Regions from separate parts of the Homo sapiens genome. Here regions 1, 2 and 4 are each linked to region 3. Evidence: fine-mapped expression QTL. A gene starts in region 3. Each other region holds a variant in brackets. All regions are shown on one strand. Distances are between the middles of the regions.

Region 1 (5,844 bases), 94 kb before region 3:
TGGTCCTGGACTCTTTTTGGTTGGTAAGCTATTGATTATTGCCACAATTTCAGATCCTGTTATTGGTCTATTCAGAGATTCAACTTCTTCCTGGTTTAGTCTTGGGAGAGTGTATGTATCAAGGAATTTATCCATTTCTTCTAGATTTTCTAGTTTATTTGCGTAGAGGTGTTTGTAGTATTCTCTGATGGTAGTTTGTATTTCTGTGGGATCAGTGGTGATATCCCCTTTATCATTTTTTATTGCATCTATTTGATTCTTCTCTCTTTTTTTCTTTATTAGTCTTGCTAGCGGTCTATCAATTTTGTTGATCCTTTCAAAAAACCAGCTCCTGGATTCATTAGTTTATTGAAGGGTTTTCTGTGTCTCTATTTCCTTCAGTTCTGCTCTGATTTTAGTTATTTCTTGCCTTCTGCTAGCTTTTGAATGTGTTTGCTCTTGCTTTTCTAGTTCTTTTAATTGTGATGTTAGGGTGTCAATTTTGGATCTTTCCTGCTTTCTCTTGTGGGCATTTAGTGCTATAAATTTCCCTCTACACACTGCTTTGAATGTGTCCCAGAGATTCTGGTATGTTGTATCTTTGTTCTCGTTGGTTTCAAAGAACATCTTTATTTCTGCCTTCATTTCGTTATGTACCCAGTAGTCATTCAGGAGCAGGTTGTTCAGTTTCCATGTAGTTGAGTGGCTTTGAGTGAGATTCTTAATCCTGAGTTCTAGTTTGATTGCACTGTGGTCTGAGAGATAGTTTGTTATAGTGTCTGTTCTTTTACATTTGCTGAGGAGAGCTTTACTTCCAAGTATGTGGTCAATTTTGGAATAGGTGTGGTGTGGTGCTGAAAAAAATGTATATTCTGTTGATTTGGGGTGGAGAGTTCTGTAGATGTCTATTAGGTCTGCTTGGTGTGGAGCTGAGTTCAATTCCTGGGTATCCTTGTTGACTTTCTGTCTCGTTGATCTGTCTAATGTTGACAGTGGGGTGTTAAAGTCTCCCATTATTAATGTGTGGGAGTCTAAGTCTCTTTGTAGGTCACTCAGGACTTGCTTTATGAATCTGGGTGCTCCTGTATTGGGTGCATATATATTTAGGATAGTTAGCTCTTCTTGTTGAATTGATCCCTTTACCACTATGTAATGGCCTTCTTTGTCTCTTTTGATCTTTGTTGGTTTAAAGTCTGTTTTATCAGAGACTAGGATTGCAACCCCTGCCTTTTTTTGTTTTCCATTTGCTTGGTAGATCTTCCTCCATCCCTTTATTTTGAGCCTATGTGTGTCCCTGCATGTGAGATGGGTTTCCTGAATACAGCACACTGATGGGTCTTGACTCTTTATCCAATTTGCCAGTCTGTGTCTTTTAATTGGAGCATTTAGTCCATTTACATTTAAAGTTAATAGTGTTATGTGTGAATTTGATCCTGTCATTATGATGTTAGCTGGTTACTTTGCTCGTTAGTTGATGCAGTTTCTTCCTAGTCTCGATGGTCTTTACATTTTGGCATGATTTTGCAGCGGCTGGTACCGGTTGTTCCTTTCCATGTTTAGTGCTTCCTTCAGGAGCTCTTTTAGGGCAGGCCTGGTGGTGACAAAATCTCTCAGCATTTGCTTGTCTGTAAAGTATTTTATTTCTTCTTCACTTATGAAGCTTAGTTTGGCTGGATATGAAATTCTGGGTTGAAAATTCTTTAAGAATGTTGAATATTGGTCCCCACTCTCTTCTGGCTTGTAGGGTTTCTGCCAAGAGATCCGCTGTTAGTCTGATGGGCTTCTCTTTGAGGGTAAACCGACCTTTCTCTCTGGCTGCCCTTAACATTTTTTCCTTCATTTCAACTTTGGTGAATCTGACAATTATGTGTCTTGGAGTTGCTCTTCTCGAGGAGTATCTTTGTGGTGTTCTCTGTATTTCCTGAATCTGAATGTTGGCCTGCCTTGCTAGATTGGGGAAGTTCTCCTGGATAATATCCTGCAGAGTGTTTTCCAACTTGGTTCCATTCTCCCCGTCACTTTCAGGTACACCAATCAGACGTAGATTTGGTCTTTTCACATAGTCCCATATTTCTTGGAGGCTTTGCTCGTTTCTTTTTATTCTTTTTTCTCTAAACTTTCCTTCTCGCTTCATTTCATTCATTTCATCTTCCATTGCTGATACCCTTTCTTCCAGTTTATCGCATTGGCTCCTGAGGCTTCTGCATTCTTCACGTGGTTCTCGAGCCTTGGTTTTCAGCTCCATCAGCTCCTTTAAGCACTTCTCTGTATTGGTTATTCTAGTTATACATTCTTCTAAATTTTTTTCAAAGTTTTCAACTTCTTTGCCTTTGGTTTGAATGTCCTCCCGTAGCTCAGAGTAATTTGATCATCTGAAGCCTTCTTCTCTCAGCTTGTCAAAGTCATTCTCCGTCCAGCTTTGTTCTGTTGCTGGTGAGGAGCTGCGTTCCTTTGGAGGAGGAGAGGCGCTCTGATTTTTAGAGTTTCCAGTTTTTCTGCTCTGTTTTTTCCCCATCTTTGTGGTTTTATCTACTTTTGGTCTTTGATGATGGTGATGTACAGATGGGTTTTTGGTGTGGATGTCCTTTCTGTTTGTTAGTTTTCCTTCTAACAGACAGGACCCTCAGGTGCAGGTCTGTTGGAGTACCCTGCAGTGTGAGGTGTCAGTGTGCCCCTGCTGGAGGGTGCCTCCCAGTTAGGCTGCTCGGGGGTCAGGTGTCAGGGACCCACTTGAGGCGGCAGTCTGCCTGTTCTCAGATCTCCAGCTGCGTACTAGGAGAACCCCTGCTCTCTTCAAAGCTGTCAGACAGGGACATTTAAGTCTGCAGAGGTTACTGCTGTCTTTTTGTTTGTCTGTGCCCTGCCCCCAGAGGTGGAGCCTACAGAGGCAGGCAGGCCTCCTTGAGCTGTGGTGGGTTCCACCCAGTTCGAGCTTCCTGGCTGCTTCGTTTACCTAAGCAAGCCTGGGCAATGGTGGGCGCCCCTCCCCCAGCCTCGCTGCCGCCTTGCAGTTTGATCTCAGACTGCTGCGCTAGCCATCAGCGAGACTCCGTGGG[G/A]TAGGACCCTCCGAGCCAAGTGCGGGATATAATCTCGTGGTGCACCGTTTTTTAAGCCCGTCGGAAAAGCGCAGTATTCGGGTGGGAGTGACCCGATTTTCCAGGTGCTGTCCGTCACCCCTTTCTTTGATTAGGAAAGGGAACTCCCTGACCCCTTGCGCTTCCCGAGTGAGGCAATGCCTCGCCCTGCTTCGGCTCGCGCACGGTGTGCGCACCCACTGACCTGCGCCCACTGTCTGGCACTCCCTAGTGAGATGAACCCGGTACCTCAGATGGAAATGCAGAAATCACCCATCTTCTGCGTCGCTCAGGCTGGGAGCTGTAGACTGGAGCTGTTCCTATTCGGCCATCTTGGCTCCTCCCTCATTTTTTGACTTTTTAATATAACAATAGCCATTCTGACCGCTGTGAGATGGTATCTCATTGTGGTTTTGATTTGCATTTCTCTAATGATTAGTGATGTTGAGCATTTTTTCATATGCTTATTGGCTGCATGTTGCCTTCTTTTGAAAAGTGTCTGTTCATGTCCTTTGCCCACCTTTTAATGGAATTACCATTCTTATTTAACAAAAATCTAGTGAATGAATATTCAATGGTGGACCTTATAAGATGAATGGAAACTCCTCTTTCAGCTGGAGTGTTGTCCTTGTCTTTTGAGGCATACCATTATTATGTCAAATTGAAATGTTGTATGTCTTTGATAGTCAGCTTTATTTAATATATGTGAGATTCCACTGGGAATCCTAGAGGTTCTAGATTCATGTTGAAGCCATGTTAGCTCACATATTCTTGAAATAATAATAATTATTGGGAAAGTTTAGAAGTAATGTCACCTTTGTATTAAAACAGATTGCTCAGATTACTCTTTTAAAATTGGAAATGTTTTTAATATAAAATAAAATATTCTGAAAAATTAACTTCTGTTATGCAAAAAATCTATAATCTAAAAAAATCCTCTTGAATTTTTTCATTTTAGGACTTTAATTGTAAATTTTGTTTAGAAATTTAATTATATATGTAAATATTTATTTTGTGTTTTAAATATAATCTTGATGATGACATAAATACTATTGAAGAAATAGCTATTGGGCACTTACCATGTGTGATTACTTGGAGCATACAAATATGTATAAGGCATAACCTCTTTCTTGAAGAACTAAATGACTCAGATATAAAGTGCAACATGGTAACTAGCACATAACTTCTACAAGATATTTGAGAAACTCAATACATAATGACTTTTGGCTTTACAGAGGAAGTCAACATTAAACTGTGTCTTTAATAGTCATAGCTGGCACATCACATGTAAAGGGAACAACTTGAAAGCATGGAGGAAGAAAGGCATAAAATATATCTAAGGAACCAGCAAACAGCCTGTTGACTAAAGCATAGAAAGAAATGAAAACTGGTAGATAGCCTGGGGTAGAAGACTAGAGCTTTATTTTACAGTCTCTGGATTCTAGAACTTAAACTGGCAATAAAGTTATTTCCCACGGAAATATGATCTAAATAGTGTTAAAGCACATGAGTTTAATAGGATAAAATAAGCTAGTAATGAAGATAAAAAGTAACTTTACCAAGGTAGAGGCAGTGGAAAAGCAAAGAACAGATTCCAGCTTTAAAATGAAAGGAAGAACTAAGAGCACTTAGGGAATGTTCAATGTATGGGGCAGGAGACAAAAATGATTATAATCAAAGTTATGTCTATTCAAGTTAGCTTTAGAAATTATAAGTTATTTGGGAAAAGGAGTAAGTTGATAAGCATTAATGCATTAACACTGCTAGAAAATAATTTAAATCCATCATCACCATCACTTCATATACAAAAAGCATGAGATTAAAAAAAAAAAGAGGATTAGTATTAGAGGTACTTCTGGTAATAATTATAGTATCCCCCAACCCCCTAGAAAAGAAAGAAAACTCCACAAACAAACCAGATATCCCAACTTAATGATTTTCCTAAAAATAAAAAACACATTTCACATTTAAATAAAAATGAACATTAGACAATCTACTACTACAAAGTAACTAGGTTCTAAAAGAGTCTACAAAGCACTTATATGACCTAGCAAAGTAAAAAGTTGTTAGAAATGAATTATTAGTTAGTATGTCTCAAAAACTAGTAAGAGAACTTTTAATCAAAATCTCTTACATTTCAAGGCCATGTTTACTCTGAAGATTTTTCTATGAAAATAACTTCAAACGGAGTACACATCCTGATTCCAAATGTATTATCATTAGCAGTATTAGCAGTAACCTTTAGATTTAAAATAAAATTAGATCCAGAAATTTACCAGTTAGTAGAAGTTTCATTCTTTGAGATTTTAAAGTTCAAATCAGCCATCCCTCCTACAGGTACTCTGTCACTCCCTGTAGTAAAATGTAGCAACTTCTTTTGAAGATCAAGAGGAAATCCAAGCACAACATCCCAAAAGTATCTAGAGAATACCAAAGGAAATTAACATCAAATGTCTTGACAAAAATCCTATAATAAAGTAATATAAAGGAAGCTCTAAGGAAAGGACTTTCCTTAAGCATACATAATATCCTGAATTTCTGTAAAATTAAGGAATGGTGAGCTTCTATATACGTATTAGACTTTTGACTAACATTATAAAATAATATTTTTATAAAAGTATATAAGTTCAGCAGTGGATAGTACAGGAACCATTTTTCTCCTGCATAACTTTCAAGTCTTATTTTTCAACATAGTGCTATTAAACTGTTATTTACAAGGATAGCATCCATGAAATTCTAGGAGCAAAGTCATTTTTTTAAAAGTAAAATCTCTACACTTTTGTAGAAACTT
Region 2 (5,844 bases), 81 kb before region 3:
AAAGCTAATGTAGAAGGCATCTTGTCCAATCTCCTACCCAATGCAGAAATGCCCTCTACAATATACCTGATAGGAATCATAGGATTGCAGATGGACTTATAAAATTTTTAAAAATACTATAAAATAATACTATATGCTTTAAATATTCCCATTCCATTCAATTTTTATGGATGCTTCCTTTATGTTTCAGGATTTGGAGGCATATTAAAGAGCTAGATTTAATTCCCCCAATTTCAATTCAGTAAACTGAGGGAAATGAGCACAAAGTGAAAGAACAGAAAAAAAATACTTCATTATAAATGGGAAATACTTTGATTTTTTTTAAAAAATGCCTTAAATTAGTGATAACTTCAATTATATGTGAAATAGGAAAGAACCATTTTTATTTTGAGATAAGGTTTTCAGAAAAAAATCAAACTCTCATTTCTTTCAATTAAGTCTACTGACATATATTACACATAATGAAGATTACTGAAAATCTAATAGTACATTTGACAATAACATTTAATTTGGATAAAATGGCTAAAGAAAACAGTTTTCTAAAATACAGATAAAATCTTTAAAAATCTCTAATCTATTAGCACCTCCTAGTGGAAAGTTTAAAGGATACAATTCCAACCAATCGGAATTCAGAATAGTTATCACATTTAAAGCTGCTAAACCAATGGCAGTGTGAATCCTTGTGATATGTAAACATGCCTAAAAAAACACACGAATAATGTTATTATTAACATGATTGACTTAAAAAAATCAAAGTGGTAAACATGTACATGACATCTCATCTATTAGAAGCTAATCAATTCAACAATAATTCTGTTACAAACCATCTTTCAAGTTAAAAATTTTGGATTATTTATGGGACTATATATTTGCAAATCTCAGCAAATATAAATATATATATTAAATATATATGGAGAACATTTTATTTTCCTGAACCAAGGGTAGAAACAGGGTAAAAAGATAGAAACTAAATGAATCAGATAACTTTATAAAAAGTATAGTTTCATAGATTATAAATTATGATCAAAATTAATTTTGAGGATATCTGGAGACTTCAATTTATCACTGTCATCCCTATTTCCCATCACATACACATATAGAAAAGAAAACTAAAGAATAAGGAAAACACTGAAAATTCTCCTTTGAAAAGTTTAACAGATAGTAAGGATTATACAGGTAGTTTCTGTAAAATAAAAAATTTCAAAGGCTTATTTTTTCTTAAAAAATTAATTCATGAATTCTTATTTATTAAAATGACCCATTAATGAAAGAGGCTTTAAATGTTACTATAGAGCAAACTATAGTTTTGTGTTTTAATTTCAAATGTTTATTTCAATGACAAATTAAATTTTCATGCATTTGACTTATTCAGAAAAGATATGGATGTTTCCTCATAAATGTTTACTTTTAATCTTGATACATTTTGTGTAGGATTCCCAGTAAGAGAATCAACTGATCAACAATTCGGTCAAACAAGTTTTTAAAATGTAAATAACAGTCCTTAAACAATTATTCAACATTTACGATGGACAAAAAGTCTGTAAAATCACAGAATAGGTTAAAAATAAGGGTGACTACTTCACTCTAACAATTATGAAGAAACACAGTTTATAAAAATTAGATTACATACTTACCATAATCTGGATGAAAAATTTGGCGAATTAGAAGAAGGAACCATTCTTTAGTCAAACCACCCATATCCAAACCAGCTTCCCCTACAAATGTAACTTTTAACTTCTTTTTCAAATCGGCTCTTTTCCGGGTTAGCTATTTGAAGATATTATACAGTAGAGGAGAACAAAGAGCAGTGAAAAGAGAATTAACATTTTTAATTCTGGGAAATGTGTTAGGCAGTCTTTAACTTATTTGCAATGCTACAAAACTCCATCCCTCCATTTATCCAATAAATCTGCCAGACACTGTGTGAGCTAGGTGTTTACTATGTCTTATAGATCAGGAAACAGAATTAGAGAGGTCAGGTACTTCACCCAAAGTACTACCTCCTGGTATCTACTGCCTTCAAATTTTTAATTTAGCACAATATAATTCATTTCTTTTTTTAAAAAAAACTCCCCTTCAATGCTAAACTTTAAAAAATCACATAGCTAGGGCTGGGTGTGGTAGCATGAGCTGGTAATCCCAACTATTTGGGAGGCTGAGGTAGGAGTATGGCTTGAGACCCTGAGACCAGGAGTTTGAGGCGGCAGTGAGCTTTGATTGTACCACTACACTCCAGCCCAGGTGACAAAATAAAACTTGTCACAAAAATAAATAAATAAATAAATCACATAGCGGAATCAGCCATTATCTTCTAATAACCATATTAAGATCTAGCTGAAGCATTTTTTATGATAATACATGAAAATGCAATCAAAGTATGTTAGAACCTGTATAGACCCAATATACCCTGTAGGTCAGACCTCTAATTTTATAGATGTGTAGTCTGAGACCTGGAGAAGTTAAATGACTTGTTACACACATAACCAGGAACAAAGGTGGGTCTGGAATCTAGGTTATATACTAAGAAACATGAATTACTCATTTAAGTGTTCTACATCAAATCCTTTTCTAGGGAATTAACAAACTATTAATAAACATACAAACATGAATATAAGACAATTATGAATACAGATCTGATTTTAACTATGGTATCAAACTTTACAGAAGCTTGGTATGCAACAAGATCTTCAAAAGAATTTAAGGAAGCACACTTATTGGCATACAGAAATAAAAAAGTTTACTATGATTTTTATAATAATCATATTATAGAATTTTAAGCTTTAATTAATATCATTTTGGAATAAATTATACCTCATCAAGTGAATCGCTAACCAGATGTGTCCGTCTTACTTTCATATTTAGAAATAATATATTCATATCAGGTCTCTGTCTTCGAGATACTTTATCCACCAGACTTTGCTGATTAAATAAGAAAGTAAACAGTTTTGCTTTTACTTAGACTATAATTTCATTTAAAACATTTAAACACTTTAGTAAAAATAACAATTATTATCTATGCCATTTCTTATATAAACAATTTTATAAAAATCAATTATACACATTTTGATTTGTGAAAATGGCTTATTATTATTTCATTTTGTAACAATGATAACCAAAGGGGATCCAAAGTGGAGGACCAAAAATAATTCACCTTCTGTAATAAAAAATGTTGCATCACAGTTTCC[G/A]TATGTCTCATCTCTTTTTTTTTTTTTTTTTTTTTTTTTTTTTGAGACGGAGTCTCACTCTTTCGCCCAAGCTGGACTGCAGTGGCGCTATCCCGGCTCACTGCAAGCTCCGCCTCTTGGGTTCATGCCATTCTCCTGCCTCAGCCTCCCGAGTAGCTGGGACTACAGGCGCCCACCACCACGCCCGGCTAATTTTTTGTATTTTTAGTAGAGACGGGGTTTCACCGTGTTAGCCAGGATGGTCTCGATCTCCTGACCTCGTGATCCGCCCGCCTCGGCCTCCCAAAGTGCTGGGATTACAGGCGTGAGCCACCGCGCCCGGCCATGTCTCATCTCTTAAATAGCAAAGTTTTCTGTTTAATAAATACAAATATAAAATGGGAACATTCAAAACAAGGTATATATTCCTGATGATAAACCTGGACTTAGGATTTTTTAGATATTGAATTTTCTTTAAAGGTACAATTAGTCTACTTTACAAAAGTGACTTGTCAACATGTATCAAAGACCATCACAATATTCATATCCTTTATCCCAATAATCCTTCCACTGAGAATTCTTAGAACATATTTTATACAGTACAATGTTTATCACAGCATTATCTATAAAAACAAAACTTTAGAAATATCTTAAGTACATATACAACTAATGAAAAAAAGGATGGTCATAAAAACTATGTAAATAGTACAAGGAAGGTACACTGAAGAAAGTAGGAAATAAAATTGTGTTTACAGTACTATTTCAACTCTGTTGTCTTTTAAAGATAATATAGAACAAATATCAAAAGAAAATTTACTAAAATGTTAATGGCTTTGCTTGGGGGATAGAGATATGAGTGACTCAAAATTCTTTTGTCACCGTTTTTCAAAATATAAGCACTGAATAGGTAAAAAACAATATATTTAAAAATATCTATAAGGAATATGTCATTTGTCATATAAAATCCACAGGCTTATATATTTATCTAAATAGTCTTTATTAGACTATATCTTTTTTTGGTAACAATGAAAACTATTGTGCAGATTAAAGATAAACATTTCAGACATTTTAAATACATGCAGCAATTTGCTTTAATAGATAAAATTTTAGTATCACAAATCTACAATTTAAGGCTACTTACAATTTTGAAGATTACTATAATAAAACACTAATTTGGAGCTTTCTCCATTTCTCCTATATACAACGCTAAATGCTATTAACAGCCTTTTATTTCTGTGTCCTCACTTATCAAGGAAGTCTGCATTCCTAGCATAGTGTCCTGTGTTACAGACCGTTTTTTCCTACCTTTTCCTATCTTCTGTTCCCAGTCTAGCTCTTGGGCAGCTGTCACATTGGAAATAACTAATAAACAAATTTATGCTAGGATGCTAATGGCAAACAAGATTAGTAGCTACTCCTCCCATCAGGAATTCATATTTACTGGAAAATGCTCCAAATGAAAAAATAACCCAACAATGATACAATTCTTGACACTGTGACTGAGGAACTTATTTTAGGTTAGGAAACCAATTTTGTATATTTAGATTGTACCATATAAGCTCTTGCTTACACTGACTATTTGTAAGATTGTCCTTGTGTCAAAATAGTCATCAGTCATTAATTCCAAGTGATATGGCAATTTATGAGATAAAATGTTGGGAAACACCCATAAAAAACTGATAATGCCACTTAGCTCTCAATGTCAAGTGTCTACTCATTCGTTTGCATGCTCTGTAGAAAACTTAGCCTGTCACAGAGTCTACACCTGCCATTCTCCTTCTTTAAAGTAGAAGAAAAATTCCACAAAAAGATATTTGATATCCTGTGAGTGACACAGAAAAAACTGTTTAGTCTTGCTAGTTTAACACAAACTAGCTCATTCTGTTACGTACAAAAGCACTGTAGATTTTCTTACAAATATAAAAAAATCATAGACCAAGGTGAAAAAATACTAAAAAGGCACATGACATTGTACGAGTACAACTAACAGAAAATGTCAGAATGAGTAGCTATACAGCTAATCATTGAGCCAATATCTACCCAAGATCAAGTAACAATTCTGGTGCTGAATATACCTGTTTAAACTCATTCTTCAGGGGGGTAGTGTGGCTTTGGAATTCCCTTGATGGGCATAGGCAATAAAATTTCTTCTAATATTCCCATATTCAGTATAAGATGACTTTGGGATGTCACCAGTTACTCAAATCTTTTGTCCTTCTCTGTGATAGAAAGAAATACTCACCTTCTGGGAACTGAATTACTGAAGAATAAACATTCTTATTTTTTATAGCATTTTGAAGTATTACAATTTATGCTTTAGGATTCTTTTTATACTCTTGAACAAGATGGAAATCATTTCTTTTTACTCTATATTCCTTTTTCAATTAAGAAGACCACAGCCAAGCTTCCCTCTTTTAAAATTGTGAGCAATCATGTAACACAAGCAGATGTTTGAAATACATAAGCACTTAAACAAATAGTTTAGAGCTCTAACAGAAAAACCTCACTGAATCTGATATTTATTAGATAAAGTACATTACTGTGCTGAGCTGAAACACAAGGGATAGGAAGTGGTAAGGACAGACTGAGAGATAACTTCATACTGCTCTACAATTTGCCTAAACTCAGTCTGCTTGCTATCCCCAGCCTCTTTGGGTCTCCATGCATTTTGGTTTCCTAA
Region 3 (5,844 bases):
CTCCTGGATTTCTTATCCTTTGGATGGACTAAGGACCAAGCATAGATTTTCTACACTTAAGCTTTTCACTGCTATTAGCTCTGAATTCTAGCTTTGAAGTCTCTCTTTGACAAATACACACACACACACACACACACACACATTCTGCCACAGATCCTGTCATAAATTGTTTTTTTTTTTAAAAAATAAATAATCAATGGTACTGACTCTGAAAGACTTTATAAGGCACAAGCAAGGCTGAGGCAGGAGAATGGCTTGAACACGAGAGGCAGAGATTGCAGTGAGCCGAGATCAGGCTACTGCACTTCAGCCTGGCGACAGAGCAAGACTCCGTCTCAAAAAGAAAAAAAAAAAACCCTCAAGTTTTGTATATTTATCCTTATCCTCTTCTATTCCAACTCATACCTTTTCAAAGTTTAATTCAAGATTTAAATTTTTTTCTTGAATATATTCTTCTCTTTGTCTAGTAGTACAAGTCCATAATCCTCTATTTACAATTTCAAAGTCCTATAAATTCTTGAAACTGAAGTGTCTTTGCAACTCATTTGGTGGCAAAAACATGCACCTAATCTGAAATGACATGACGCTACTGACTTTTTCCCTTTAGCATGAACACATAATTTCATTACAGTTATTAAGATGGTTGATTAGAGAGAACTGGCTAGGACCTTACTGTGGGTATTAAATAATATATGATATATGTACCGAATTACCTTTCTAAAATCTGAAAAACTTGAAATCCCAAAGCAGACTGTAGACTTGTATCCACACTTGCAAATTCCAAAACGGCAATTTTTCAGTTATGAGATGAATAGGTTTTTGGGAGAGCGTTTGCTTGAGGACCTAAACCCACTCATTTAACTGTTTCTATAAGTACATACATTTACTGTTTTAAACAACCAACTTAGAAATGAACTGCTGGAATTCTGTGAGTTAAAGACTTCCTATATAAAATCTGAAAACCTAGGGTACCAGCAGCAGGAACCAGGTCTCCAAGCAGCTGGGTGACAAATTCCTTCAAAGCATTTTCTAGGGTAATCCCTAACCCCAGCTCCAATCTACCAATCAATTGTAGCTACGCTTTTAAACGTGTATCATTACTGTTCGCAATTTGCTGCATTGATTTAAAGAGCTTGTTTTAACAATTTCCAGTTATCAGGGCCCTCAGACATTTTTGAAAAACCTACCGAATCCGAAAATTATTCCTAACACCAATACAGTACTTAACGAAGAGTGAGCTATTTTAGTAAGTTCTTAGTCATTTAAGAGGGAGGTTTTAAGAAATGAACCGCAAGTAGGAATAAAGAAAATGTATAATGTTCACTAAACTTTTACTATTTTGTCACACACAGCTGCATGACAAGTCATGATCTTTAAATATATCAAAGCAAACTTTCAAAAAGTACTTAAATATTATGTCAAAATAAAAAATTGCAAAATCCGAGGTTTTTTTTTAAATTGTGCTTCAAATTAACCAGTCACAACCACCAGTAAAAATAGGGAAAGAGGGGGAGGGGGCTGTCCCATGACATCATCTGGCAATATGTAGTTTGAAGCCTGACAGCGCTCTCCAAATAACCCTTACGAAGATACAGCTGGGAAATCATCCCTGTCAAGCTTAGATAACTTGGGTTTAAATAAAAGGTTCAAAAAGCCTCCCCCCACCTGAGTCACATGTCTGTACCATATGAAAAATAAAACCATCACTGATGCATCTACCTCCCACTACACTGACAGCAACGGAAAGGTCACAATTAAGTGGAAACTCGCCGCAGAGCCTGTTTAATCTGAAGGGGGAAGGGAAAGAAAAGCGAAGAAAAGGACAAAAATCTGCGCGCCTCCAAGGCAGGCAGGCAGGCAGGCACCTCCGTGGAAAACCCACTCCCGCCTGCTGACACCTATGCTCATCCAACAGATCATGCCGACTCAAGATGCAGGTCATTCTCTTAGAGAAAGTGGGGGCCCAAGCCCCAGAAAATAACCCAAACATCCAGCGGAACCGACCACCCCCAACATTTCCCGAGGGTGGTAGGTGTACCTCGCGAAGTGTTCGGGGCTGTCCACGAGGCACAACTCTTTTATTTCTGCCCAAGGAAGGGCGGCCTGAGTGCGTCTCCCTGGAGTGCCAGGGCGTGCCCAGGGTAAACGCAGGCCTCCTGACGGCCCTCGCCCGGCCGCCGTCCCTCCCAACTCCCGCCGTCCGGGGCGCCAGACGGCCCCGGCCCACCACCTACCGCGGTCGCGCCGGCGCCCGCCGATACGATGGGCGGCAGCTTCTCGCGCTCTGACTCCTTCCCTTTCCTCTCCTCAGGCGCGGGCGCCGCCACCACCAGCGGAGTGGCGGGCGAGGGTACCCGAACCGCCTCACTCATGTCGGGCCGGGCGGCGGGAGCGCCAGGCGGCGGCGGCGGCCTCAGTGTTGCTGGGGCTGGCGCTGCTGCTGCCGCCGCGGCCGCGAGAGGGCTCTGGGCTGCCGCTTCTAGCCGCCGCTGCCGCCGCCACTCCGCCCCCGCCCGCGCCCGCGCCTTTGCGCGCGAGCCCGAGGCCGCCCCCGCGCGCGCCAGCCCCGCGGACGCGGCTCCCCACAGGTCCCACAGGTTTCTTGCTCTCGCCTCCCCCGCCCGCCCGGGGCTCGCGCGTCGCGGGTCGGGAGCGCCGGCGGTAGTCCCCCTCGTCAACCCCGAGGGCCCGGAGAGAAGGCGCCACGGTCGACGCCCGACCGCCATATTGTTTGCAGAGTGTCGCCCGAGATGACGAGGAGACCCCGCACCCGGGCCGCGCAGGAGAACCTGGACTAAGGACGGGCAGTCGGGGAGACAAGTCGAGCCCTGCAAAGGGTCGGACGGGGATAGAGTGTCCGAGTGGTACCAGTAGGGCAGGACGTAGGCACAGACTACCCTTCACGGACGGCCCTGGCCTGCGGCGCCGAGTCCCGCGGGCAAGCGCCCTCGGGGTCTGGGCTGGTGGCCTTTCGCCTTCTTCCAGGCGCCCACAAAGCTGTCCGCCTTGGGGCTTCTGCCTTCTTATCCTTGCCCGCCCTCCTGAGCCCAGGAGAGGCGGCCCGGAGCTTGCGCAGCCCGGGGAGACAGCCTTCCTGGCTCAGCAACCGACTCTTTTGTACACGCCTGGATGGCTTCAGCCTACACAGGAAAAGCCTGGAGGTGGGGAGGAGTGCGACGTGGTGGGCCCCCCCTTTCCCCTTCCCCCATAGGATTGGACGGCCAGTCCACACTTTCCATTCCTGTTCCTCTCGTCCCTCTTTGACTGCCAAATCCGCCTCTCCCTTCCCGTCCCCACGCGCCTACGTTTTGCTCTCTCCCCGCAACCCTTTGCTGTCTCCTATCCGTCCCTTCCTTGTTCCTTTCCGTTTATGTTAGAGATGTACATACCCAAACTCTGCTGCACAGTCCTCAATCAAATCATTACAAATAGGAGTAAAAACTTGAAAGCCGAAGAAGAGAGCTTTTAATTATGAAATTAAAATACCCCCCACCTCCACCACCAGGACACCTAGACAATTTCCTTTCCTTTCTTGTCGCCCCCTCCTTTTCCTTTTTCTCAGTCTACTGGAGCGGCGGGGACACCTGCTGATCTAGGAGAAAAGAGAGTAAGAATGCGCTGTATCGCCTGTTAAAAGCAAGGAATTTCGATATTCAGCTCTATCAGATTTTTTATCTGTGCCTTCATTATTTTATTGGAGGTTGAGTGAATTTTTAGATCAAGAGTACCTAAGTCCAAATATAAGAACCAAAAATATCTCTGAAACAAACCCAAATATGATTTCGGGGTATCTATTGTTTACATAATTTGGAGTTATTAGTATAACTAAATACTAGTTATGGTGCATCATGAGATAAGGTTGCATGTTTTCAAACCCACAATTTGTAACAAGTAGATCTGAAGCAAACAATGTTGCCTTCTAAATTTTGAATTCTGACTTTCATTTATAGAAAGGCTTTCTACTTTAATATAGTTGCTGTTGCCACCTATTTACTTGTTAATTAACAAAAGGTATAGAATAAGTGCCATATAGTCAGCAAAAAGTATTTCAGTGCTAATAGCCTTGGAGGGAAAATGATGTATGTCGGCATTACTTTGAAGCATCCTCCTCCTTTCTATTAATATTTTTCTAAATTCTTTTTCAGGATTTTCTTTCCTTAAAACTACTGAAATACTCATCCCATAGAGAGGAACATAACATTATTTTCTGCTTTTAGCAGGTCTGTATGCTGATCATGGATACAGGAACAACTCAAATGTTATTTTATAAAATGAAGCCTTTATTTTAGCTGCAATTTCAGATATTCTGTGCTAAGTCTAGGTTGATAGAACAAATACTAGAGGGAAAAGTATCCTCTTTCCTATTGTTTTCAACTAGATTTAGTAATTTGCTATAAAAATGTTTGGATGAGAAACCACTTGGATAACAGGCCTTCTGCTTTCTTTTTTCATGTGTGAGACTAAATAAAAGTGTGTCTGTACATGTAGTCACATTCAATAGAACAAACTGCTTAAATATTGGCAAAACAAGGCAAGTCAAAAATGTTAATTTCTGCTACTGCACCAGAGTAGATAACCCATTTCTTAACAAATTCTCTGATTAATTAGCTTGTGAGTTCCATGTAAAAAATGATAATTTGTTCATGTTTCCTTTGACTTCTTATTAAATAAATGTCCTCAATCCACCACCTCATCCCTCCCTCATACATAGTCCAGGAGGGGGCTGGAGAATGGGAATGGGGCCTGCTGGAAAGCTGTAGAATTATAGCTCTGGGGGAACTCGTGGTGTGCTTGAGAGACACATTCCCAACTGCCATCAGTGTGCTTCTGGAGACCCAGGTGGGAGAAGAGAGTGTTGTAAAGCAGGACATACAGAGAGCTCTGGCCATTCTGTACAGAGGTGTGGAGAAGATGCTTTTTAGCTATGCCAAGTGTCAGACGTGCAACAGTGAGGGTATCCAAGTATAAACTCATTCGCTTTGGAAAAACTAGGAGCGAGGCAGAAGAAGCATTTCATGTTTCTAAGTCCAGATGGAAGACCTGAGCTCATTAATTATACCTATGGGGAATAGGGTTTGGCAGGGTGGGAGTGAGGGTTAGAGAACTCATTATTTCCCTGGAAGAAAAAGAAAGACAAAATTACAAGGTAATGGAAGGTCGAAATTATAGATAACTTCTATTTTAATTATGTATAGTAATACTAATGTAGTGAACAATAGCAAAATAGGTGCACAGGTCATTTTAGAATGGTTTATACCACTAATACCTTAATTTTAGAAGGTATAGCTATGAAATAGTGCAACTTATTTTAATATTTCAACTGAATGTTGTCCTAAAGTAAACTTGGGGAAATTATTTTAGCCATGTTGACCTTGTTAAAAAGATTTTTAGAACTCTTTCTTAGGTATAATGGTTGTGGATTTTTAAAATTACTATTTAAAAAATAACTTGGCTGGGTGTGGTGGCTCATGCCTGTAATCCTAAGACTTTGGGAGGCCAAGGCAGGTGGCTCACTTGAGGTCAGGAGTTTGAAACCAGCCTGGCCAACATGGTGAAACCCTGTCCCTACTAAAAATACCAAAAATAAATAAATAAATAAATAAATAAATAAATAAATAAATAAATAAATAAATTTAGCCAGGTGTGGTGGTGGGCACCTGTAATCCCAGCTACTCGGGAGGCTGAGGCAGGAGAATTGCTTCAACTCGGGAGGCAGAGGTTGCAGTGAGCTGAAATCGTGCCACTGCACTCCAGCCTGGGTGACACATCTCACAACGAAACAAAACAAAACAAAAAAACCTTTTCTTTGTTTAAAAAAAAAAAGATGCTTTGTCATTACAGAAA
Region 4 (5,844 bases), 200 kb before region 3:
GAAAGCATTGTTCTGGCAGCCTTTAGGATGTGGTTTGAATTCATGACAGTAGTTCATTTTTATGTGTTGTTTCAAACCTTCTTTACGATTTTGAGATGCCAGATTGCATCAAGTTGAGTCTAACATTCCATTGGGCTCTCACTGCTGTTGCAGACACGGAAATAAAGCCAAATCCTTAGGTGTTTCTGTGAAGGATCAGCTATTCTCTAGATTCTTAGTGCTTACACTTGGGCTTCTGGGTGACAGAAAGGTCAATCCTATTTAACATGGAAACCAACCTCCTTGGACATTCTAATTGGCACCATGTAATGAACTCCCCTTGCTGATACCACCACCTACAACAATAGGCACCTACACCACACTGCCTTTCTGACTCCTAGCACAGTATCCCAGCCCTTATTTATCTAAATGAACACCATCAAACCAGGGTGGAGACATCCTGCTGTCTTGGGAACAGTGTCAACAATTCCATTATATCACCATCTAGGTTTAGTGTGCTTGAAAACAATGATCAGGCCACACCTATGCCAAAAACTTCCTATCACAGCAACAAAAGATATCGATGCTCCATATCACAAAAGGATACAGTCATAACGATGGGCAGTGGGTGCTTCCGGCTATTTGTCAGTACAGCTTCTCACAGCCCCTCTGTCTCACTCATGCTCTGTCAATGGATTAATAGCTCAGGACAACTGTGTGTCCCATGAGTCAGAGGGGCTGGTGAGTCACATGCTTATGCCAATTCCTCCGGCAGATACTTTATCCCAGCCATTTATAATGCTGACCATTTATAATGCTGACCAGACTCAAAGTAACTAAAACCAGCTGTAACCAGAGACATGCACAGACTCAAGTGTCCAGTTATGTACTCTGTTGGATGATATGACCTTCAAAATTAATCTTTGGGTAAGCCCAGTCTATAAACTGCTTGTTCATATGTCTACTCTGGATTTATGATATACTCTCTTCCTTGTGGTAGCTGACACTCTCTGGCTCTGACTGTTTAGATCATGTGAAATCTGACTTACCATCTAGCCAGGATCTTGAGCTCATTGCTACCAAAGTCCTGACTAACAACTTTAAAAAAATGGAAAGAAACCCCCAAAGGAACTGCCTTGGTGGCAAATAACTGCACAGTTAGAGCTGCTGTGATGGAGACAGAGGTATCTGGAGGACTTTGGCTCCTGGGTGTTATGACAATCTTTGGTCCAGAGGGAATAATATCTTATAACCCTGTATTTATACATGGTATTAAAATGTCAAAGGCGAATTTTCTAGGTCTATTCTGTAATCTGATTCCAGGGCAATATGATCCCTTTGCTCTTCAGCTGACTTCTGTCTTATCATCTATGTCAAAGCTTAAGTGTCACCTTCTCAGAGTGGTCTTCTCTGACTACCCCATCTAAAATAGGTATTCCCAGCCATTCTCCCTCATTCATTATTATTTTTTAAGATTTTATTTATGAATTTAATGTAAATGCCATGAAATATATGCAAAATTCATGAAAGTTATGAACAAAACATTAACACTACTCAAGTTTTATGTGGTTTAATTTCACCAATATCCCCTGGGTTCCATGGGAGGGATTTCAGCATAACATAATTATTTTCAGTTCAACGCAAAAAAAAAAAAAAAGATTGACTGAGCTTCTACTACGTGGTAGGCACTGAATCTACAGAAGTAAGATATATTCCTGCCCTCTCTTTTCTCAAACTACACATAATATGGCCCTTGTTAGCCTTTCTAATATGGATTGAAAATCTATGTGTAGGCCGGGCACGGTGGCTCACGCCTGTAATCCCAGCACTTTGGGAGGCCGAGGCAGGGGGATCACGAGGTCAGGAGATTGAGACCATCCTGGCTAACACGGTGAAACCCCGTCTCTACTAAAAAAAATACAAAAAAAATTAGCCGGGCGCTGTGGCAGGCGCCTGTAGTCGCAGCTACTCAGGAGGCTGAGGCAGGAGAATGGCGTGAACACGGGAAGCGGAGCTTGCAGTGAGCCGAGATCGCGCCACTGCATTCCAGCCTGGGCGACAGAGCGAGACTCCAACTCAAAAAAAAAAAAAAAAAAAAGAAAGAAAGAAAATCTATGTGTAAGTGTAATTCTGTGTTTTTTTTTTTTTTTTTTTTTTTGGCAGAGTCTTGCTCTGTTGCCCAGGCTGGAGTACAGTAGCATGATCACAGCTCACTGCAGCCTCAACCTCTTGGGCTCAAGTGATCCTCCTACCTCAGCTTCCCAGGTAGTTGGAACTATAGGCATGTGCCACCATATTTGGCTAATTTTTAATTTTTTGTAGAGATGGGGTCTCACTACCTCATTCATTATTTCATCAAGTGTTGTTGGGTGCCTGTGAGGTGCCTGGATCCCTCAGGGAACTTACGTTTACTGAGCATTTATTAATGTGACAGGCGCTATGTTAAGAGTTTTGTTTACATTTTCTCATTTCGTCCTATGAGGTATGTACTGTTATCATCACCATTTTACAAATAAGGAAGCTGAGGCACAGAGAGGCGAAGTAACCTGCCCAAGATCACACAGTTAATAAGGGGCAGAGCTGGGATTTGAGATCCAGAAGTGTGATCCTGAGCATGGGCATTTCCTCTCATAGCACCCTGTTCTTTTCCTTTCTCACACATCTCACAATTAGAATTCTATGTAATAGGGTGTGAGTGAGATTTTGTTCTGTTGTCTTGGAATGGCTGCCATTGCCCAAAGGTGACCCAGAAAGTGCTAAGCACTCTGGTTTTCTAAAGAGAGCTCTTAACCAGCCTTCAGCAATGCAGTGGCAGAACTGGCCTTAATACCACCAACCCTGCCCCTGTCCTGGGTCTGTAAGGAGAAGTCTGGGCTGGAATAAGGGGCTCAGAGTTTTCAGCCTGGAGGAGGTACAGAGTTCCTTGTGAGCATATTCCCAGGAGCAGGACCAGGAACAGGGGTTTTCCCTCCTCCAAGCCAAAGGAGAGTTGGGGGTGCTAAGGGGATCACTAATGTCATGTTTACTGGCTAGACATCTGCCTGGGCAGCAGTCCTGCTGTCAGCCCTGTC[C/A]CAGGAGAAGAGAAACATTGGAGAGAGAAGGCAGGGCTGAAATACGGTGTGGCCATGGCACAGGCTCCTTCCCACAGCTTGGCTCAGCAGGATGGTTAGATTTCCCACGCGTCAAAAGAATGCTGAGGAAGGTACTGGGCCTGGGCTGACTTGCTGTGCCCCCCTCTGCCCCCCGAAGATAGCCACCCTCTGGATGAGGGTCTCCAAGCAACAAGAGTTTGTGAGGTGGGCTACAAGTGGCAAGGGCTGGGGCCTGGGGAGGAAGAGCTCAAACACCCCTTCCCCTTCCCACCCCTGCCATGGAGGGAACTACATCCTGATGAGGTGGGTAGAGAGGTGAGAACAGAGACAGAGCAGACCCACCTGGATCTATGCCAAGCCCCAGTGGCAGCAAGTCTTGGCTACTCTGGGAGGGCAGAGGGCTTGGGATCAGATCTGAGATGGAGGTTTAAACTGGTCTTGACTAAACTGAATAGCTGAAAGTGACAGGAAGTAATGGAAACTGTGAGATATTTTAAAGGGGGGGAAAGAGGAGGAGATGATTTGACATAGCAAGTCAAGGATAGTGGAAAAAAATGAAAACTACATTGTGTTTATTCTCTGTGGATTTGAAGCTTCTTGGCAAATTGGTCCATTTATTTAATTGTGTGTGCATTTATGAATCGTCTCTTTTAATCAGACTTTAAGTTCTATGAGAGCAGGACATGTGTGTCTTATTGACTGCTTTACCCACTTTACCTAGTATGGAGTCTGGCAAAATAAATGTTGAAGTGAAAAGTAAAAGACACCACTATAGGCATGGGGAAGCTTAATTGGTTATGAATCCTGGCATTCCAGATGTCTGACTAAACCCCCCGGTAGATGCTCTGGAATCTTAGATGATAAAGAACTTTTAGGAAGAGGACCTCAGGGCAGGAGTGAAGAACACGTGCACTATAGCTATACAGACCTGGGTTCAAGACACTGCACCCCATACTCTACACTCCTGTCACATAACGTAACATTAGAGCTTCACTTTCCTCCTCTGACATGCCTTGATCATGTTTACCCTTCAGGATTCTTGTGGAATTTAAGTGACATTATGCATGTAAAGGCCTCTGGATTAAAGGGAACTCTTGTACACTGTTGGTGAGAATGTAAATTAGTACAGCCATTTTGGAAAGCGGTATGATGGTTCCCGAAAAAATGGAAAATAGAACTACCATATGATCCAGCAATCCCACTTCTGGGTGTACATCCAAATGAATTGAAATCAATACGTTGAAGAGATATCTGCACTCCCATGTGAATTGCAGCATTATTCACAATACCCAAGATATGGAAATAACCTAAGTGACCATCAATAGATGAATGGATAAAAATTTTAGTATATATACACAACAAAATACTATTCATCCTTAAGATAGAAGAAAATTCTGTTATTTGTGATGACAACATGAATTAACCTGGAGGACATCATGCTAAGTGAAATAAGCCAGGCACAGAAAGATAGATCCTATGTGATCTCACTTAGAATGTGAAATCTAAAAACTTCAAACTCATGGAAGTAGAGAGTAGAATGGTAGTTATAAGAGGCTGATAGGTGGGGGCAGATAGGGAATGGGGAAATGTTGGTCAAGGTGTACGAAGTTTCATTTTTAGACAGGAGGAGTCAGTTCTGGGGATCTGTTGCACAGCATGGTGGCTATAGTTAATAATAATATATTGCATATTTCAAAATTGCTAAAAGATAGATTTTAAATGTTCTCATCACAAAGAAATCGTAAGTATGTGAGTTGATGAGCCTGTTAAATTAGCTTGATTTGATCATTCTACAATGTATACATATATCGAAATATCACATTGTACCCCATAAATATGTACAATATTTGATAATTTTGAAAATAGATAATGTGGCTCAAACCATAAGAAATTTTTGGAGTAGCCAACTTGAAACTTACAGCTTTAAGGCTAAGAACTTTGAGAGTGTGGGTGTGGGGTGCCCAATTCTATATATGGGAATGATGAGGAGAAGCTAAAGGACTTTTCAAGTGTGTGATGTAGGAGTCAGGTGGAGATTACATATGGGAAAAGGCTTTGCAAACCATGAAGTGAGGAAAAGTGTTCACACACTTATAGCCAGAACACTGCAAGAGTTAATAATGGTCCTATTGCAGGCTCAGGGGCCTATCGTTTATTTATAGAAATGCCTTGGGGAGTTACAGATGGGGAGGGAAAGCAAAGAATGTGTTTCTGTGCATGCCTGTGTGTGTGTGTGTGTGTGTGTGTGTGTGTGTGTGAGAGAGAGAGAGAGAGAGAGAGACAGAGAGACAGAGAGAGAGAGAGAGAGAGAGAAATGTACAGGTTTAGCTTTTTCTGAGTTTCTATTTAACACACACCCCCTACCTCCTCCCTTCTCCCTTTTCTACCCCCTTATCTCCAGGCTGTCTCAGTGTCACCTCCTCCGGCCAGTTCCTTCTGGACACCTTGTCTGTCCTTGAGCTATCATGTAATCCTTCCGGGTATTGCCTCAGCTAGCGAGAGCCCAGTCCTGGCAGAAGCCACCCTGCAAATAATTCACTGTGAAAGCTGGGCTTGTTCTCTTCAAAGGGTAAAGTGGGCTAACGAGAAGGGACGAGAGCGTCCCCTGCCCCACCTCCACTCCCTCACAAGTTCTCTTTGGAAACTACCCTTCCCCTTCCTGGGATGACCTCTGTCCTTAATGAAATGGGAGAAACAGAATGTCAAGACTTGTTTCCTTTCCAAATAAAAGAGGAACGCGCTGAAGTGCATTTTAAATGCTGTCTGGCAAGAG

Direction of the effects. Alleles are on the strand shown, and positions count from the first base shown. SD is a standard deviation of normalised expression in the study named. Not every link is listed here.
For the expression in skeletal muscle of the gene that starts at base 2,467 in region 3, C is the low allele of the variant in region 4 and A is the other (moderate effect, 0.53 SD a copy in GTEx).

Evidence for each region.
Region 1: its variant is fine-mapped to the expression of HECTD2 in blood mononuclear cells (TOPMed, PIP 0.94).
Region 2: its variant is fine-mapped to the expression of HECTD2 in whole blood (TOPMed, PIP above 0.99). The same link has a PIP of 0.9 or more in blood mononuclear cells.
Region 4: its variant is fine-mapped to the expression of HECTD2 in skeletal muscle (GTEx, PIP above 0.99).

What each region holds. Positions count from the first base shown.
Region 1 is chr10:91,500,820-91,506,663 of GRCh38, reverse strand. It overlaps HECTD2 (HECT domain E3 ubiquitin protein ligase 2), which reads right to left. Exons shown (of 21, transcript NM_182765.6): 20 at 5,330-5,473. The region is part of intron 3 of HECTD2-AS1 (HECTD2 antisense RNA 1); the gene reads left to right. Among named protein-coding and RNA genes, the nearest start is that of HECTD2, 93 kb to the right of the region's middle. The variant G/A (reference allele first, on the strand shown) is at 3,036.
Region 2 is chr10:91,488,275-91,494,118 of GRCh38, reverse strand. HECTD2 (HECT domain E3 ubiquitin protein ligase 2) reads right to left here. Exons shown (of 21, transcript NM_182765.6): 12 at 2,812-2,919; 13 at 1,635-1,767; 14 at 611-699. The region is part of intron 3 of HECTD2-AS1 (HECTD2 antisense RNA 1); the gene reads left to right. Among named protein-coding and RNA genes, the nearest start is that of HECTD2, 81 kb to the right of the region's middle. The variant G/A (reference allele first, on the strand shown) is at 3,186.
Region 3 is chr10:91,406,967-91,412,810 of GRCh38, reverse strand. HECTD2 (HECT domain E3 ubiquitin protein ligase 2) reads right to left here and starts at 2,467. Exons shown (of 21, transcript NM_182765.6): 1 at 2,235-2,467. The coding sequence starts at 2,372. All of the region lies in intron 3 of HECTD2-AS1 (HECTD2 antisense RNA 1), which reads left to right. RefSeq lists a silencer at 2,111-2,700 and an enhancer at 2,851-3,060.
Region 4 is chr10:91,608,688-91,614,531 of GRCh38, reverse strand. HECTD2-AS1 (HECTD2 antisense RNA 1) reads left to right here and starts at 3,072. Exons shown (of 5, transcript NR_024467.1): 1 at 3,072-3,181. The variant C/A (reference allele first, on the strand shown) is at 3,051.